Regions from separate parts of the Homo sapiens genome. Here regions 1 and 3 are each linked to region 2. The links come from fine-mapping of genetic effects on gene expression. A gene starts in region 2. Each other region holds a variant in brackets. All regions are shown on one strand. Distances are between the middles of the regions.

Region 1 (5,325 bases), 29 kb before region 2:
TAAGCTGGTGGCTCAGAAATAAAAACACATCCACAAGGGACTGCTAATAGACATGCAGCTCATCTGTACAAATTGAACTCCAGAGGCACAAATGGATACTTATTATCCAGTTGCAACCAACCAATACAAATTATTAGGCAAACATACAGACTGACTTGGGGACTAATGGTCACCAAGAGCTGAGGAAACAGTTCTAATAATGGGAAAAGTAACATTTATTGAGCAATTGGGTAACAGGTCTTGAGATGAGCATATATGTACTCTCTCAATCTTCCCTACTGTCCTATGAAGTAGGTATTATTATCATCTCTACTTTAACATGAAGAAAAAGGCACAGGGGATGAAGAATTTGCTTATCATTACGTAACTAATAACTGGCAGAACTTTTTAGATATAACATGAATCAGTCAGCGGGGTGATTCCAGAGTCCACAGTCTTAGATGCTCCACCATACTACCTAGTAAAGGTTCTGGAAGTTAAGAAACAAACACGCTGGTTGGCTCAATCAGGGAATATACCACACAATGCTAAATAGTCATGTTTCTACCATATGTAGCTCTACGCATTTTATTTCACTTACTTTTCACATAAGCTCTAATATTCCATTATAAAAATAACGCACATTACAGAAAATTTAGAAAATACAGAAAAATAGGCTATTAGACCTTAACTCTAAAACATTTTAAACACTTGAACTAAAAATGTATTATGTAGTAGACAATACACATTAAAAATAAGGAGGCAAAAATAAAAGGTAATTTTACTACAATGAACTTTCCACTCAAGAAATCTTCATCCTGTTGAAGAAAATTAAAATAAAAACTTACCACGATTTTGGCCAAGATTCCATCATCACTTGCATCTAAGGTAACCACAGCTTTGTCAGTCTCAATTTCACATAATGCATCTCCAGCACTCACCGCTTCACCTACAAAACAAGACTGGGTTTGTTTTGTTTTTTAAAATATAAATATTACTATGTATATATGTACGTATGAATAAAACATAAATAAATACCAAAATATTCCGTAGCTATTTCTGGGTTGTGGAAATACAAGTAATTCTCATTATGTGTGGGTGTTTGTGTGTGTGTGTGTATGTGTATGCTTTGCTGTAATTTCCAAAAGCTCTATAATGGACATAAATTATACTTGTGATAATAAAAAAGCTATTACAAAGATTACTGAGCATGTAAAAATGAAATCAACCTTAAAGACATCAGCAACAAATGTGTATCCACCTCTGAACAAATCAATTCCAGACTCCATATCCCCCTTACTTTTTCAAACATTTTGACTATATTCCCTGAAGAAAAGTTTTACAATTAACAGTACTTCTGGGTTCACATCTTAGGGCAAGTTCAAAAAACCTGTTGGCAGCACACAGTATAAATGAATAAAGCATATAAAGCATAAAAAGAGAAAATCAAAGACACAACTGAAGTCAAATACAGATCATTTCTCTGCAACAGAAAATATCTGGAAACTCAAAAATATGGAGGAAGACCTGAAGTTCCAGGCTTACTAGCTTCTGGATTTAGGAGCAGGTTTGGAGCAAACAGGGGAAAAGAGGTACAACAGTTTCCTTTGGGGATTAAAGGGAACTAAAAGTAGTCTGTTGGATATAGGGGACTCAAATCAGATTCACTATTTGGAGCTAGGGCTAAGTCAGGGTTCTTCTACTCATAATGTGAGGCTGATAAAATGCACAATCAAAACCTGTTGACTGAGACTATGATTTTAATCAGCAACCATGGGTCTAGGAAGGTGGGGACCAGAATACTGCCTCAGTACCAGGAACAAAGTCAAGCCACCCTCTGGCTCCGGGGCTGTATCTGCCAATATCCCCAATATCAATTGCAAAATTCCTTGGATGGTGGCAAGGATCGAGGGGGGACTGCGTAGGAGGGAAGACATTAAAACATAAACTTTCCACTTAAAAGTAAATTGCACAAGAAAGTTCTGAGACACACGAAGAAATCAAAAGCTAAGAAAGCAAGCCACAAAATCAGTAATTGTAACAAAAATTCTTTTCAGAAGCAATTTATTTAGTGCAATCTGTCAAAGATTGTAAAATAAGTACTTGAGGACATCCAAAAACATAAATGAAAGTAAAAGAGCCATCACAAGAACAAGAAATTAAAAAAAAATGGTATCAGGTAGAAATAAAAAAACGAATTAGAAATCTTAAAAATGAAAAATTAAGTAATTGAAATAAAAAGAAACAACAGAATATATTCTAGACAGGGAATAGTGAAGGTATGAATTAGTAAATTGAAAGGTAGCACTAATGAACTACGCAGAATTTCATACAGGCAGACAAAAAGATACAAACATTAAAAACAAAAAACAAAACAAAACGAAAAAACAGAAAAGAGCAGTTAAGTGACAAAGACTGAGGCTGCAATGTTTGCTAATGGAGTTCTGAGGGAAGACACTGGAGGCACTGGTGGAGAAGCAATACCTGAAGAATTAGTGGCTGAGAATTTCCCAGAACTGGAGATGTATACTCTCATCATCAAAGAGTTTTGAATGAATTTAGGATAGGTGTACTGACTAGCAGGGGGCATACGGATCTGTGTAGCTTGCTAAGAATGTTCTAAATCTTGATCTAGGTGGTGGTAACATGGGTATACATGTATACAAAATTTAA[T/C]TGAGCCTAAAGTTTATGCAAGTTATACCTTGATAAAAACTTAAACAGAAAAAAGAGTATTAGACTATATAAACATGAATCCATATTAGATACAATGTAAAGAAACCGCATTCTATCAACGATAAAAACATAATCTTTTAAAAATCTATCAAAGGGGAAAAAAAACAGATTACCTCAATGGAAAGACTGAGAGTACACTTCTCAGCAGCTGCAACAGAGGTCAGAAAACAATGAAGTAATATCTTCAAAAAACTGAGGAAAAATAACTGTCTAGAATTTTGTATGCTGCCAAACCATCATTTGAGAATGAAAGAGAAGTATTCTTTAGATATATAAAGGCTAGGAAATTTTACCACCTATTAAAGATCTCTTTAAAAAGCTCTTACAAGATGCAGTTCATCAAGAAGAAAAGTGGAAGCAGATGGAACCCATGGGCTATAAGAAACAAGTTATTGTGAAAATTACTAAAATGTTAACTACTAGTATTTTTAAAGTAATGTTTGAGGGTTTAAAAAGTGTAAAACTCAAACTCTAAAAAATAATAAGATAGGTAAGGAAATGTTTAGATGGTAAGGCATGCTAACAACTTTGATATATTCAGCTGGTGCAAAAGTAATTTTATTTTTACCACCTTACTTTCAAAAACCCCAATTACTTTTGCATCAACTTATAATAGGAGAAAAATACTGAATAATACTAAACTTTATTGGCAAAATTTAATTTAAAATTTAAAAACAGAAATATAATCTACAGCATTAGAAAAACAGAGGAAAAATAAGAAGTTGATTATCTAACTGAGGGCAGGCACATGGAAAGAAAAGGCAAAGGATAAAAACAAAAATGCACAAAAAATGGTAGAAATAAGTCCCCATGTATCCGTAATCACAATAAATATAAATGGATTAAAATCACCCATTAAAAGTAGAGATTATCAAAATGGATATGAAAATAAAATCTAGGTAAATGTAGCTTACAAGAGATAGCCCTAACACAAAAACAGAATAAAAAACAAGGGGATAAAAAATATGTAACATATAAATACACCTCCTCACACACCAAAAATAGCTGGAATAGCAATATTAACAGGCAAGCATCATAAGAGAATATGAAAGAAAATCTAAAACACTAAATTAACAAATATGCTCTGAACGTTCACAGTACAGAAAGTACTTCATTGTGTACCAAGATGATCAAATTGATAGTTATATCTTCAGGTTAAATAGTTCAGAGACACTAATATAAGTTATTTTTAAAAATAAATTGATATGTTAGATGATATTTATTTACCACCTAAAAGGTCCTTTGTCTAACTCCAAAGAGATGTCCCTAGTCAACAAACATTTATTAAAAATGTATTGGGGTGGCCAGGCGTGTAGGCTCACACCTGTAATCCCATCACTTTGGGAGGCCGAGGTGGGTGGATCACCTGAGGCCAGGGGTTCAAGACCAGCCTGGCCAACATTGTGAAACCCCGTCCCTACTAAAAATACAAAAATTAGCCAGGAGAGGTGGCAGGCACCTGTGGTCCCAGCTACTCGGGAGGTTGAGGCAGAAGAATCACTTGAACCTGGGAGAAGGGGGTTGCAGTGAGTCAAGATCATGCCATTTCACTCCAGCCTGGGCAACAAGAGCAAAAACTCTGTCTAAAAAATAATAATAATTATATAAATATATTTTATATATATATACACACACACACACATATTTGTATTATATATTTATATATTACATATAAAATATATATACATATGTAGGCACTGAGGATACAGCAGTGGACAGTAATAACAGCAAAGATTTAAGATTCCTGACCTCAAGAAGCTTGCTTAATATCCATTGACAAGTAAACTGGAAAATACAGCAGGATAAGGTGAGGTCAGGATGCTTTGGGAATGTTCAGGAGGGGCATCTAATTCAGTTTTTGTAAGGTGAGAAAAGGCTTCCTAGAATACAATGACCACCTATTCTGAGCCTGAAGAGGTGAGGAGGAGACAATCTGTAAACAGGCAGTGATCCAGGTAGAAGGTAATACACTTATAGCCCTGGAGGCAGAGAGAACAGGAAACTTCAGAGAAACTGGCAAATAGTATGCGAGAGAAGTGACGAGAGATTAGGCTGGTAAGATATGCAGGAAGAGACCAAAAATGACCTTTGTATGTCATAGAGAAAGCTACAGTGTCAGATTATATCATCTTACATACTTCTTTAAATGTTTTAGTGGTTAAAACAGATTGCACTTCAAAAGGGAAAAAAAGCACACCCTCAAAGATTTCTGCTATAATCACGGGAAAAACTATAGAACTAGTAAACCCAGCAATTAAATACCTCTTAGATGCCTAGAAAACAGACTCTAGCCACAGAAAAACAAAATGATGCTATATCATCATTTGTGTTCATCAGTATTCAAATTCCAACCACACTTTAAGAACTACAGATTCGACTTCAGCTATATAACTTTCTCTGAGTAACTTGACCTACATAATTTTGTTCATATTCCAGATTCCTATAGTAGGTCTAATTTATTTAAAAATCACAAATTGCATATAAAATGTTATATTACTGCTAATTACTTTTTTAAATTGTGATTTCCTCTATTTACTAGACTATGAGCTTCTTCACAATACGGACAGGACACTTAAATGTTTTATATTCCCATCCCCATTCCTCAGGTTTCAT
Region 2 (5,325 bases):
CCAAGCAGGGTACCATGTGCCTGGCACCTAATAGATGCTAATTTCTTCACTCATTCTTCAATAATGTAAGTGGTAAAAAAGATAGTCTCTGCATTCTCAATAAATCTGTTGAGAGAATGATACAAATTAAAGATTTGTTAAACAAATTAATATATGTATATAAATATATACATGCACTTCAGTTCATCAACACAGTTACATGTCTTTAGGAGACTCAATTTCTCTAAGCCTTGGTGTTTTTGTCCAACTAAATGCAGATGATGCCAACTTTACTAGGTTATGTGAGAAGTGAATGAGAAATTCTAGAAAGTGCTAAGAAAATGGCATATGTCATAGCTCATAAAAATGCTGCCAGCACCTCTTAAGGAAATTAAAACTCCAAAGGTAGTTCCGACTGACAAATTTTTAAAGATATTTGTGTGAAAGACGAAACAGTTCAATAAATGTACTTAATTTATATAGTTTACAGTAATCCAAATAGTTGTTTAGTTTTATAAAACTACAGTTTCTACCAAGCTCAGAGAAAAAACACCACCGTAAATTCACAGTTTGTAAAACAAATAGTTCAAGGATTGCCACGTGTTTTCGGCATGGCAAAACAAAAATCTGTATGTAGGTGAAAGTCAGAAGCGGATATATTTTGGCTCGGTATTAGGAAAAAAGTCCAACACTTCCAAATACTTAGTATTTCCAAATACTTTCCACAGCTTCACATGCAGAATGCCATGCCTCAAAAGGTTCACGTCCTAATACCCAGAACCTATGAATATGCTGTTACATGGCAAGAGGGAATTAAGGTTAAAGATGGAATTAAGGTTTCTACTCAACCTTGAGATGGGGAAAATATTCAGGATCATCCAGATGAGCCCAATGTAATCACAAGGGTCCTTGTAAGTGGCAGAAGGCAGAGGGGAGTATTAAGAGTGACGTAATGTGATAAAGACTGAACCAGCCATTGCTGACTTTGAAGCCCATGAGTCAAAGAATCTTAGAAACCTCTAGAATCTGGAAAACTTAAGGGAATGGGGTCTCGAGCCTCCAGAAAAGAATGCAGCTCCTACCAATAGCTTGATTTTAGCCTAGTTAGATCCATTTTGGACTTCGGACCTCTAGAACTATGAGATGTGAATTTGTGTTGTTTTAAGCCACTAATTTCTGGTAATTTGTTGCAGCAGCACTAGAAAACTAATTTGGCTTTCCTTGAGATGCCATGCCTTCTTCCTGACAGATGGTATTCAAACTGGGGTAGACAAGTTGTTCATGGTATATGTCTAGGGGATAGGGAATAGGTAAAAAAGCATCATGAGGATGCAGATAAGGATTGCTTGCCTAACTGAGTTTCTAAAGGCATTAAACTGGGCCTATGTATACTTTTTTTTTTTTTTCTCCTGAGACAGGGTCTCACTCTGTCACCCAGGCTAAAGTGCAGCGGCAGGATCATAGCTCAATGAAACGTCTAACTCCTGGGTTCAACGGATCCTCCTGCCTCAGCCCCTGGAGTAGCTGGGATGCCAGCACGCCTGGCTTTTTTTCTTTCTTTTTTTTTTTTTAAGTAGAGACGGGGGTCTCACTTTGTTGCCCGGGCTGGTCTCCAACTCCTGGGCTCTAGCAATCTTCCAGCTTCGCCTCCCAAAGTGCTGGGATTACAGGCGTGAGCCACTACGTGCACATTTTTGTGTGTGACCATTTATGGTACTTCCTCTGTACAGAGAGTCTGTAACATTTTCAAAGATTCTCAAAAGGATCTGCTTGATAAACAAGATTAAGAGCACTCTTCCTAGATTATATCCAATACTAAACTTTTAATATTCCATGATTTTCTAAGGCAGTGAGTCTCAAAGCTCATTCCATTAAATGTCAAAATAAAACATCAAAACTCATCCAACATTTGTAAAATGCAGATTCCTGAGCCCCACACCAGACCAGACCGAATCTCTAGGAGCTGGAAAAAAGTTTAATTTCAACAAACTTGGAGGAGGGAAGAGAAGGAATTCTGCACACACTGTTAAAGCACCTCTGCTCCAAGGAATATGTTATGAAACATTACACCAAAAATGAAATAAATTGTTCCCATTAAGGAACCTTTAGGAACCCCAATACACTCATCTTACCATATGACTTTGTGTGATTTTTTTTTTCTGAGCCTAAGGTAGCTCAGAATATGAAGGCAACGTCTACTAGACCTATTTAAATTAAAATTCATTCTGTAGAGTGCCAGGAACGATGATTGGCAGGTAATACGTCACACTAAAAAACGTCAGTCCTATTCTCCATCCCCGCCTCCCTCCAACCTTCTCCCAAAATAAGGAAAAATAATACCCGGCCTGCCATTTTGCATACTGTTAAATACTGCAAGAATTGTGTTAACTGCATCAATATCATTACTAAACAACAATTTTCTATAATAAATTTTTGGTATGATTTATCTCCTAAATGTTTGCTCTTTCAAGCGAATATTTGCTTGAAACATTCTCCTGGACCTTTGTCTATCGTGATGCCGTAGGAATTTACAAATTTAAGTCTTCCACGAGTCATGGCGTGGGGTAAAACTCGACTGGCCTCAATGAAAACACCTCCTAACAGAGAGAGGCCTAGAGAATAAGTAAGAACTCCCAACAGTGGCTTTTCAATCTCGGCAACCTTGGGCAGCTTTTTCTCGTCCGAGACGTTTGACAACCCTAAAGAAACCTGAGCCTTGATTGGAAAGGGGGCTGAGGGAGGAGAGTTTGGGAACCCTCTCTGCGCCTCACAAATAACCCAAATTCCAAGGCAAGGTCACAAAGCCATACAAACCAGGGGGCCTAGGGCAGAGTCGAGTTCTCTCAGCTGCCAAGAAAGCCCTTCACAGCATGCATTAGGCCAAGTCGGCGGACCCCAACCGGAGAAAGAGGAAAGGGAATAAGGAGCCCGCGCACCTTCACACCCAAAAGCAGGCCCTCAATCATAACTGCCCCTGTCCCAGGCCCATCACTCAGCTACACAGAGAAGCTGAGCGAGCCCCGGCCACTCACCCCGAAGCCACTGCGTGCTGTGAAACCATCTCCAATTAGCTCCGCGGCTTACAGACCACCCAAGAGCCCCCTTCACCAGCCCTACGCTTCGGCGGCCGGGGAAGCCCACAAGATAACGCAGCAGCCGCGGATCACAGCCCAGCCTCCAGGAGGCCGCCATCTTGACGGCCTTCTCACTGGCTGCCCGCAGCACAGCCTGATGTCCAGCATCAAGGCCCCGCCTCCCGCATGGTTGGCCACGCCCCCAGACGCTAGCGGTGCCTTTAGGTCTCTCAGACTTGAACCCCCGCCCCCCAACCCAGCCCCGCCTCCAACCACGTTGGCCTTGCCTCCCGGGAAGTCAGGTGCGCCGCTGGATATCTCAGCCGGCGGGGCCTTACCAGACCCCGGCCCCCGCCCCGTTCGCCCCGCCCCCGGGCTGCCCTCAGCGCCGCCTGATTGCATTTGCGGCCTCGCTGCCGTATCCCAGGCTAAGCGCCGCGCGCAAAGCCGTGCGGAGATTGGAGGCCGCGCGGGTCCCTGGTCTGGGCCATGTCTGGCTGTGATGCTCGGGAGGGAGACTGTTGTTCCCGGAGATGCGGCGCGCAGGTAGGGGCGGGGCCACCGGTGCCCGGTATTCCCAGGAGGAGAGGCCCAGGCGGGACCCGGCGGCTGGAGCTGGGCGCAGGGTAGCGGGCCGGGCGTTTAGCTGCGGGGCGGGGTTTCGGGCCTGGCCGTTCGCTACCCCGGCGCACCGCGACCTTGGCGTTCGGAAGCAAGGCTGCGAGGCCCCAGGAGATCAGTGGTCTCGGGCGGGGCGCTCCGATGGCGGGAGCTGGGCGCCAAACGTTGGAAAGAAGCAAATAACTGAGAGAGGAGAGCGTTTAGGTGACCTCACCGGGTATTTATCAGGAAGGCAGGCCAGAGAAGGAATCGTGAAGCACCGAAGTGGAGCTGGGGCGAAGACCGCGCCCCCCAAGCTTCTTTTCTGCGCCCTGACGACCAGTTAGGCGTTTGGGGGGACGTTTGGCACTCGGGAGACGTTTGCCGAACCGGAGCTGTGCCTCAGCTGCCAGCGCTTTGCCTTTGAGCAGTTGCTCCTTGCCTATCTCCGTTTAGATGAATTGTGGGATGATCATGGGAACGATTCTTCCTTAAGCCGAAGTCAAAGGGAAATCCACCCTCACGCTGCATGTAGTTTTCGGTCATTTACACAAACCAACAGTTTTATGGAGCGCCTTCTACACGCTCAGAGATAGGGATACGTAAGATAAATGGCCCAGGGTCTGGAGAACTAGACGAATAAGCAGTTTCAGCACAATATGATAAACCCCACCTAAGAGGCAGGGAAACCCCTCAAAATTAGTTTCCTTATTCCCCCTATCTTATTCCTCCTATCTATATCTTTCTTAGGGTTGAAAATCCTAATTAAAAAGTAGTAACTCGCGGGAGATTTCATTGCTAAACATTTGTCAACCACTTTCTTGTTTGAATAAGTGACTTCCCCAAATTAGCAAAGACGACTCTGAAAATAGAATGCTGCATAGGCAAGATTGGATGAGAGAGAGAAGATCTTGGAGACAGGACAGGTAACTGGAGATCGTTCCTGGGCAAGTGTGTATGGAGAAGTGTCCGTACCCTCAATCAGTAAATCTTAGTGTAATGTCATCAGAATGAGCATCAAAGAGAGCCTTAAGGGACCCGAGAATAAACTAGGATTCTCAAACCAAACATGGCCCACAGACAGCTTGGTGGACAGGCATGTTTTTTTTTTGCTGCACTCAATGTTCATGAAAAATTTGAGCCAACCTTTTTTTTTTTTTTTTTTTTTTTTTGACACGTTTTGCTCTTGTTGCCCAGGCTGGAGTGCAGTGGCGTGATCTCAGCTCACTGCAACTTCTGCCTCCTTGGTTCAAGCGATTTTCCTGCCTCAGCCTCCCAAGTAGCTGGGATTACAGGCGCATGTCACCACACCCAGTTAATTTTTGTATTTTTAGTAGAGACTGGGTTTCACCATGTTGGCCAGGCTGGTCTCGAACTCGTTATCTCAGGTGATCCACCCCCCTAAGCTGCCCAAAGTGCTGGGATTACAGGTGTAAGCCACCACGCCCTGCCAAGCCAACATTTCAAAATCCAGAATCATTTCAGCTTCTTTTAAAACCTCAGAACACATGGTGACATTGGGCCCTTATTTTTTCATGGGATCTGGATTGCGGTTACTAGTGAACACCACCTTTACAGAGGGTGCTGGCCAGGTTACCACAGCTTCCACTACTCACACTGGATTTGCATATCTAGTTAAATACATGAGCCCCTCTAGATATTTGTATTTGTC
Region 3 (5,325 bases), 37 kb after region 2:
AAATGAGGGCACAGTGAAATGAAAATTTTATACTCTATGTTTCTGTTTATTTTTAAATCCTTAACAGCAAAATATTTGCCTTTAATTTCTTTTTTATATATACTCTCAGAGAATTCCTCTTAATTTTTAAAGATGCTGGTGATAATAAAATTCATTAGAAAATTTCCTCATTGTGGAATGAGCATTCTCTTGTTTTAATGTTGGTGTCAGAAAATAAATATGAAACATTAAGTCCAAATTTATCCCTCAATGTTAATGTCAAAATAATTTTATAGATTTCCCCTATTAGCTTTAGTGTTTCCCTGTGGTCTACAACAGGACACTCATTTTATATTGGGATCAGTTGTGAAATTCAGGTCAGGTGGTATCAACTCAAATTCCCTTAACCAAACAAATCTTGATCAAACCGATGATGTAATCAGAAAGTCCTTTCTTTAAAATTGTTTTAAATTTTAGGTTTGGGGGCCCACATGAAGGTTTGTTACATAGACAAACACATGTCACAGGGGTTTGTTGTACATATTATTACATCACCCGGGTATTAAGTTCAGTATCCAATAGTTATCTTTTATGCTCTTCTTCCTCCTCCCACCCTCCGCCATCAAGTAGACCCCAGTGTCTGTTGTTTCCTTCTTTGTAGTCATAAGTTATTGCCATTTAGCTCCCACTTAGAAGTGAGAACATGCAGTATTTGGTTTTCTGTTACTGTGTTAGTTTGCTAAGAATAATAGCCTCCAGCTCCATCCATGTTCCCGCAAAAGACATAATCTTGTTCTTTTCTATGGCTGCATAATATTCCATGGTGTATATGTACCATATTTTCCTTATCCATTCTGTCACTGATGGGCATTTAGGTTGATTCCGTGTCTTTACTCTTGTGAATAGTGCTGCAGTGAACATTTGTGTGCATGTGTCGTTATGGTAGAATGCTTTATATTCCTTCAGGTATATACCCAGTAATAATAGGATTGCTGGGTCAAATGGTTGTTCTGCTTTTAGCTCTTTGAGGAATTGCCATACTGCTTTCCACAATGTTTGAACTAATTTGCACTCCTACCAACACTATGTAAGGGTTCCCTTTTCCCTGCAACCTTGCCTGTATCTGGGTTTGTTTGTTTTTTCTTTTTTTTTTTTTTTTTTTTTTGTGACAGTCTTGCTCTGTCACCCAGGCTGGAGTGCAGTAGCACCATCTTGGCTTACTGCAACCTCCATCTCCTGGGTTCAAGCGATTCTCCTGCCTCAGCCTCCCAAGTAGCTGGGATCACAGGCATGCTACCACCCCCGGCTAATTTTTGTATTTTAGTAGAGACAGGGTTTCGCCATGTTGGCCAGACTGGTCTCAAACTCCTGGCCTCAAATGATCCGCCCACCTCGGCCTCCCAAAGTGCTGTGATTACAGGCATGAGCCACTGCCCCCAGCCTGTTTTCTGGATTCTTGGCGGAGGTTCTTCCACTGGGGAAAAATAGTTTTAGCCACCTCTGGTTAATTTCATTTTCCTCATTTTAAAATGCAGCTAATGAATAAGATAAAGTATGTGGAGGAACAAACCACAATGCTTAATCCAGTGTAGATGTTCAATAAATATTAGTGTTTTTTAAAATCCCTTTTAATCCTCATAATAGTCTTTTGAGATAGATATTGTACCTATTTTCTTAGATGAGAAAATTGAGGCTCAGATAGGAATAATAAATATGTAGAATTTAAATAAGAGAAAACAGGTAAACTTCTTAACACAGTACCTGTCATATACTATGTATGCACTCAAAATATAAACTTCCTTTCCTAAAAACCCCTCACCTAGCTATCTTCAAAGTAATTGTCATGCAGGTAAACCATTTAAACTATACAGCAGCAGCAGCACATCTCCAGTTGTATATTTCTTTCCTGGGAGTGCAGAAAAGATTGCAAAACCTGCTTTAGAGGTAGGGGAACAGCTGGTGGAAGGCTGTATCCCCTAGTTAATATCCTTTTTTTTTAAGAATATGATCCCTCCTGTGTGACTGCTAGGAGCCAAGGTCCAAAGATGAATACAAATCCAGGCTGGGAGCTAATCCTCAGTGCCTGCCACATAGGTGTTCAGTGAATGAGGGAGGGGGAAGCAGGCATTCTTCTTCACATGCCCTTGTGATTGTTGTTCTCTCAGTTATTCCAGCTTCTTTAAATAAGAGGAAAATTTGGTTATGAATGCAGGATTAAACTGCTAAGAGATCTAGATCAAACACATTTTTTATTTCATTAAGTGCAGGACATGCCATTCACTCTCAGATTGAATAAGGGACTATCATTTGTTTCTCAAATGATTCTAGAGGCTTTTGGTCCCACCCAACTTTCTTGTGAGAGATACTTCAAAATAACATAGTTCCCTAGAGAATGTCCCAAAATCCGAAAGGTAAAGTCATAATCTTAAGGAGTGTTTCATTTTATATCTCAATTTGTTCAAATACCTCCCTTTTGAGAAAATTTTGCCATGTCTCATCAGCAGTTCTAGTCAAGATGGTCAGATGTGGAACTAATAATGTTGACATCACTATTCAAGAGGCAATTTGAATTCTCCCACCAAGTTTCTTTAAAGCAGGACTACAAGGCCCAGCACAGTGGCTCACGCCTGTAATCCCAGCACTTTGGGAGGCTGAAGTAGGCGGATCACCTGAGGTCAGGAGTTTCGAGATCAGCCTGGCCAACATGGTGAAACCCCATCTCTACTAAAAATATTTTAAAAATTAGCCAGGCATGGTGGCAGGCACCTGTAGTCCCCTCTACTTCGGAGGCTGAGGCACAAGAATCACTTGAACCAGGGAGGTGGAGAGTGCAGTGAGCTGAGATCGCACCACTGCACTCCAGCTTGGGTGACAGAGCAAGACTCTATCTCAAAAAACAAAACAAAACAAAACAGATTTTGGTTTCCATTTCACTGATCTGTAATTTATAAGCACTGAATCACCAAGTTTTGGATAA[T/C]AATCACTGAAATGGGTATTCTTTTGTGGTCTTAAGTTATAAACACAAATATGCTCTTAAAGTATATTTGGCTTCTGATATGAGTATTAGGGACTTAGGGTTCTAACAAATTTTAATATGTTCTACTATTTTATTCATACTTTTAGTAAGTACCTTTTACTTTTCCTACTTCATTATTGCAATAAGGACCACATCTTTGGAGATGAAACCAGGAAAATTTATATATATATATACAGTAGAGCTTTGAAAGTTAAGTAAAAATTTCCAGTAGTCAAAATTATCATAAAAAATCCTTTAAAATAACCCATCAAATATAGTGCTGTATATGTGATTTGTGAACTTAAGATTATTTCATTTATTCAGTAGTGTTTATCCACGTCCTCAAATAATCATGTTTTGTTTCTTTTGAGGATGTTGATCAAGTCATCACCAGCCTTTTATCTTGAACAATGTGTTTTAAATCATCTGCAAATTTTTCCATTGGTTTCACAATTGTTCATTGTCAGTTTCAGGTTTAATTGCATCTATTGCTTTTAATACAAGCAAAGGAAAAGTACTATTTTCCTGGTATACAATCCCTTTAGGTTAACTTTAAAATAACTCAATACATTGTGATTGGAACCCACTAGACAGTTAGGATCTGTTCTCTTTACTCATGCATGGTTAAACTTTTCTGTTAATAAACATGTCTTTCCCATGCTCTAAACATAAAAGTGTTATATGTGTATAATCTTATGCTCATTTAGGCTTGCATTGTTTGATAAAAACTGGGTGAAAAGCAAAATACCCTAGACACCACCCCCACCAAAAAAAACTACATTAGTGTAAGGAGTAAACTTATGAAACAGTAAGTTGTGCTGTGTTGGTGTCAAATGCTCCTAGTCAAAGCCTTGATGACCATCTGTAAGCTTATCTGTTTGATATAAATGATCTAAAGGACACCCAAAGAAGGTTCCAACAGGCAAGAGAATGGAGTAGGCATCCTCAGGGTGCTGAATATTTCTGCCCATGGCTGGGTAGGAAATCTTTATCCCTCAAGGGATATTACTGTAAACCTTCGTTAGCAAGTAAATATCAATAAATGTTGAATGAATGACTCTTGGTTCTCCAGCAATATTAAATGGGATTGAGGAGTAAAAAGAAGTGTCTATGTAACCTCCTCCAAATTCCATTGTAAGAGAATTGAGCCTAAGAAGAATGAATGCCATGTTAACTTTTATGTTATGGGGCATAATTGGTTATTGTTGTTAATGGAGTAGGACTGAGAAAGTCTTAAATTCCTGTTTGGGACAGAATAGAAGGGGTGGTTAATAATGGATGGGGTGGTTAATAAATAAATCAGTAATGTATTACATCTTAAAGGAAGGAATTGGGAAGAGTAGGATTATAAAATCTTGTTGAGCTTCTCTGATATCTCTTTACTAAATGTCTTTAATTTGTGTAAGTCTTCCCAGTAGCAAACTATGAATCACTTTATACATTAACTGTGTTTAATAATTGCATGAAATATTATAGTTTAGCAAGCAGTTTCACCCTTCTAGTCATCTTGTCAGCAATCCTGATGTCAGTGTTATCACCATCCACCAAAAAACATAAGCTTCTAGTGAGACAGGGCCATGTCCTATCTATTTCCATAGCCCTGTGCCTACGTGTAGCAGACAATCAAAAAATACTTGCTTTTTGAATAAACCCTCATGTTAACAATGAGACACAGGTTCAGAAAGGTTAACTTGCTCAAGACCTGTGAGCAGGAGAGCTGGGAATTTGTCCTAGGCCTTTGGCTCTAAATTGTATGGCATTTTCTCAACCTGGATGAATGAATCCCTCTCAGCAAATGCACATCTATGCATTTTATTCATGCATTTTGAAATTACTCAAGATAATAAACATAGGGACATTTTCAGGTTGATTTATCTGTTTTTATTCCTTATATAAATTTCAGGCATATTCTCTCTAACATTTTAGTAAAACTGCATACATATTTTAACAATATGCATAGAGGTGATTAACATCACCATGTTAGAATATTAGGATGTTATCCATCACACACCGGGGCCTGTCGTGGGGTGGGGGGAGGGGGGAGGGATAGCATTAGGAGATATACCTAATGTAAATGACAAGTTAATGGGTGCAGCACACCAACATGGCACATGTGTACATCTGTAACAAACCTGCTTGTTGTGCACATGTACCCCAGAACTTAAAGTATGAAAAAAAAAATACAAAATTTAGCCAGCTGTGGTGGCATGCACCTGTAATCCCAGCTACTTGGTAAGGTTGAGGCATGAGAGTCGCTTAACATGGGTAAGGTTGAGGCATGAGAGTCGCTTAACATGGGAGGCGGAGGTTGTAGTGAGCAGCCGAGATCA

Direction of the effects. Positions count from the first base shown, and alleles are read on the strand shown. Sizes are in standard deviations (SD) of each study's normalised expression. Not every link is listed here.
With allele T in place of C in region 3, the expression in spinal cord of the gene that starts at base 3,209 in region 2 is lower (moderate effect, 0.44 SD a copy in GTEx).

The links. PIP is the estimated chance that this variant, and not a neighbour inherited with it, causes the effect. A credible set is the group of variants that fine-mapping cannot tell apart.
Region 1: its variant is the best candidate, but not a certain one, in a credible set for the expression of PDHX in T cells (TOPMed, PIP 0.51).
Region 3: its variant is the best candidate, but not a certain one, in a credible set for the expression of PDHX in spinal cord (GTEx, PIP 0.68).

Annotation. Positions count from the first base shown.
Region 1 is chr11:34,943,109-34,948,433 of GRCh38, reverse strand. PDHX (pyruvate dehydrogenase complex component X) reads right to left here. Exons shown (of 11, transcript NM_003477.3): 3 at 828-928. Among named protein-coding and RNA genes, the nearest start is that of MIR1343, 3.9 kb to the right of the region's middle. The variant T/C (reference allele first, on the strand shown) is at 2,653.
Region 2 is chr11:34,914,502-34,919,826 of GRCh38, reverse strand. PDHX (pyruvate dehydrogenase complex component X) reads right to left here and starts at 3,209. Exons shown (of 11, transcript NM_003477.3): 1 at 3,012-3,209. The coding sequence starts at 3,171. It overlaps APIP (APAF1 interacting protein), which reads left to right and starts at 3,448. Exons shown (of 7, transcript NM_015957.4): 1 at 3,448-3,599. The coding sequence starts at 3,543. RefSeq lists an enhancer at 2,908-3,207 and silencers at 3,378-3,427, 3,448-3,787.
Region 3 is chr11:34,877,208-34,882,532 of GRCh38, reverse strand. LOC102723568 (a long non-coding RNA gene) reads right to left here. Exons shown (of 7, transcript XR_007062652.1): 7 at 4,854-5,325. It overlaps APIP (APAF1 interacting protein), which reads left to right. Exons shown (of 7, transcript NM_015957.4): 7 at 1-238. Among named protein-coding and RNA genes, the nearest start is that of APIP, 37 kb to the left of the region's middle. The variant T/C (reference allele first, on the strand shown) is at 2,957.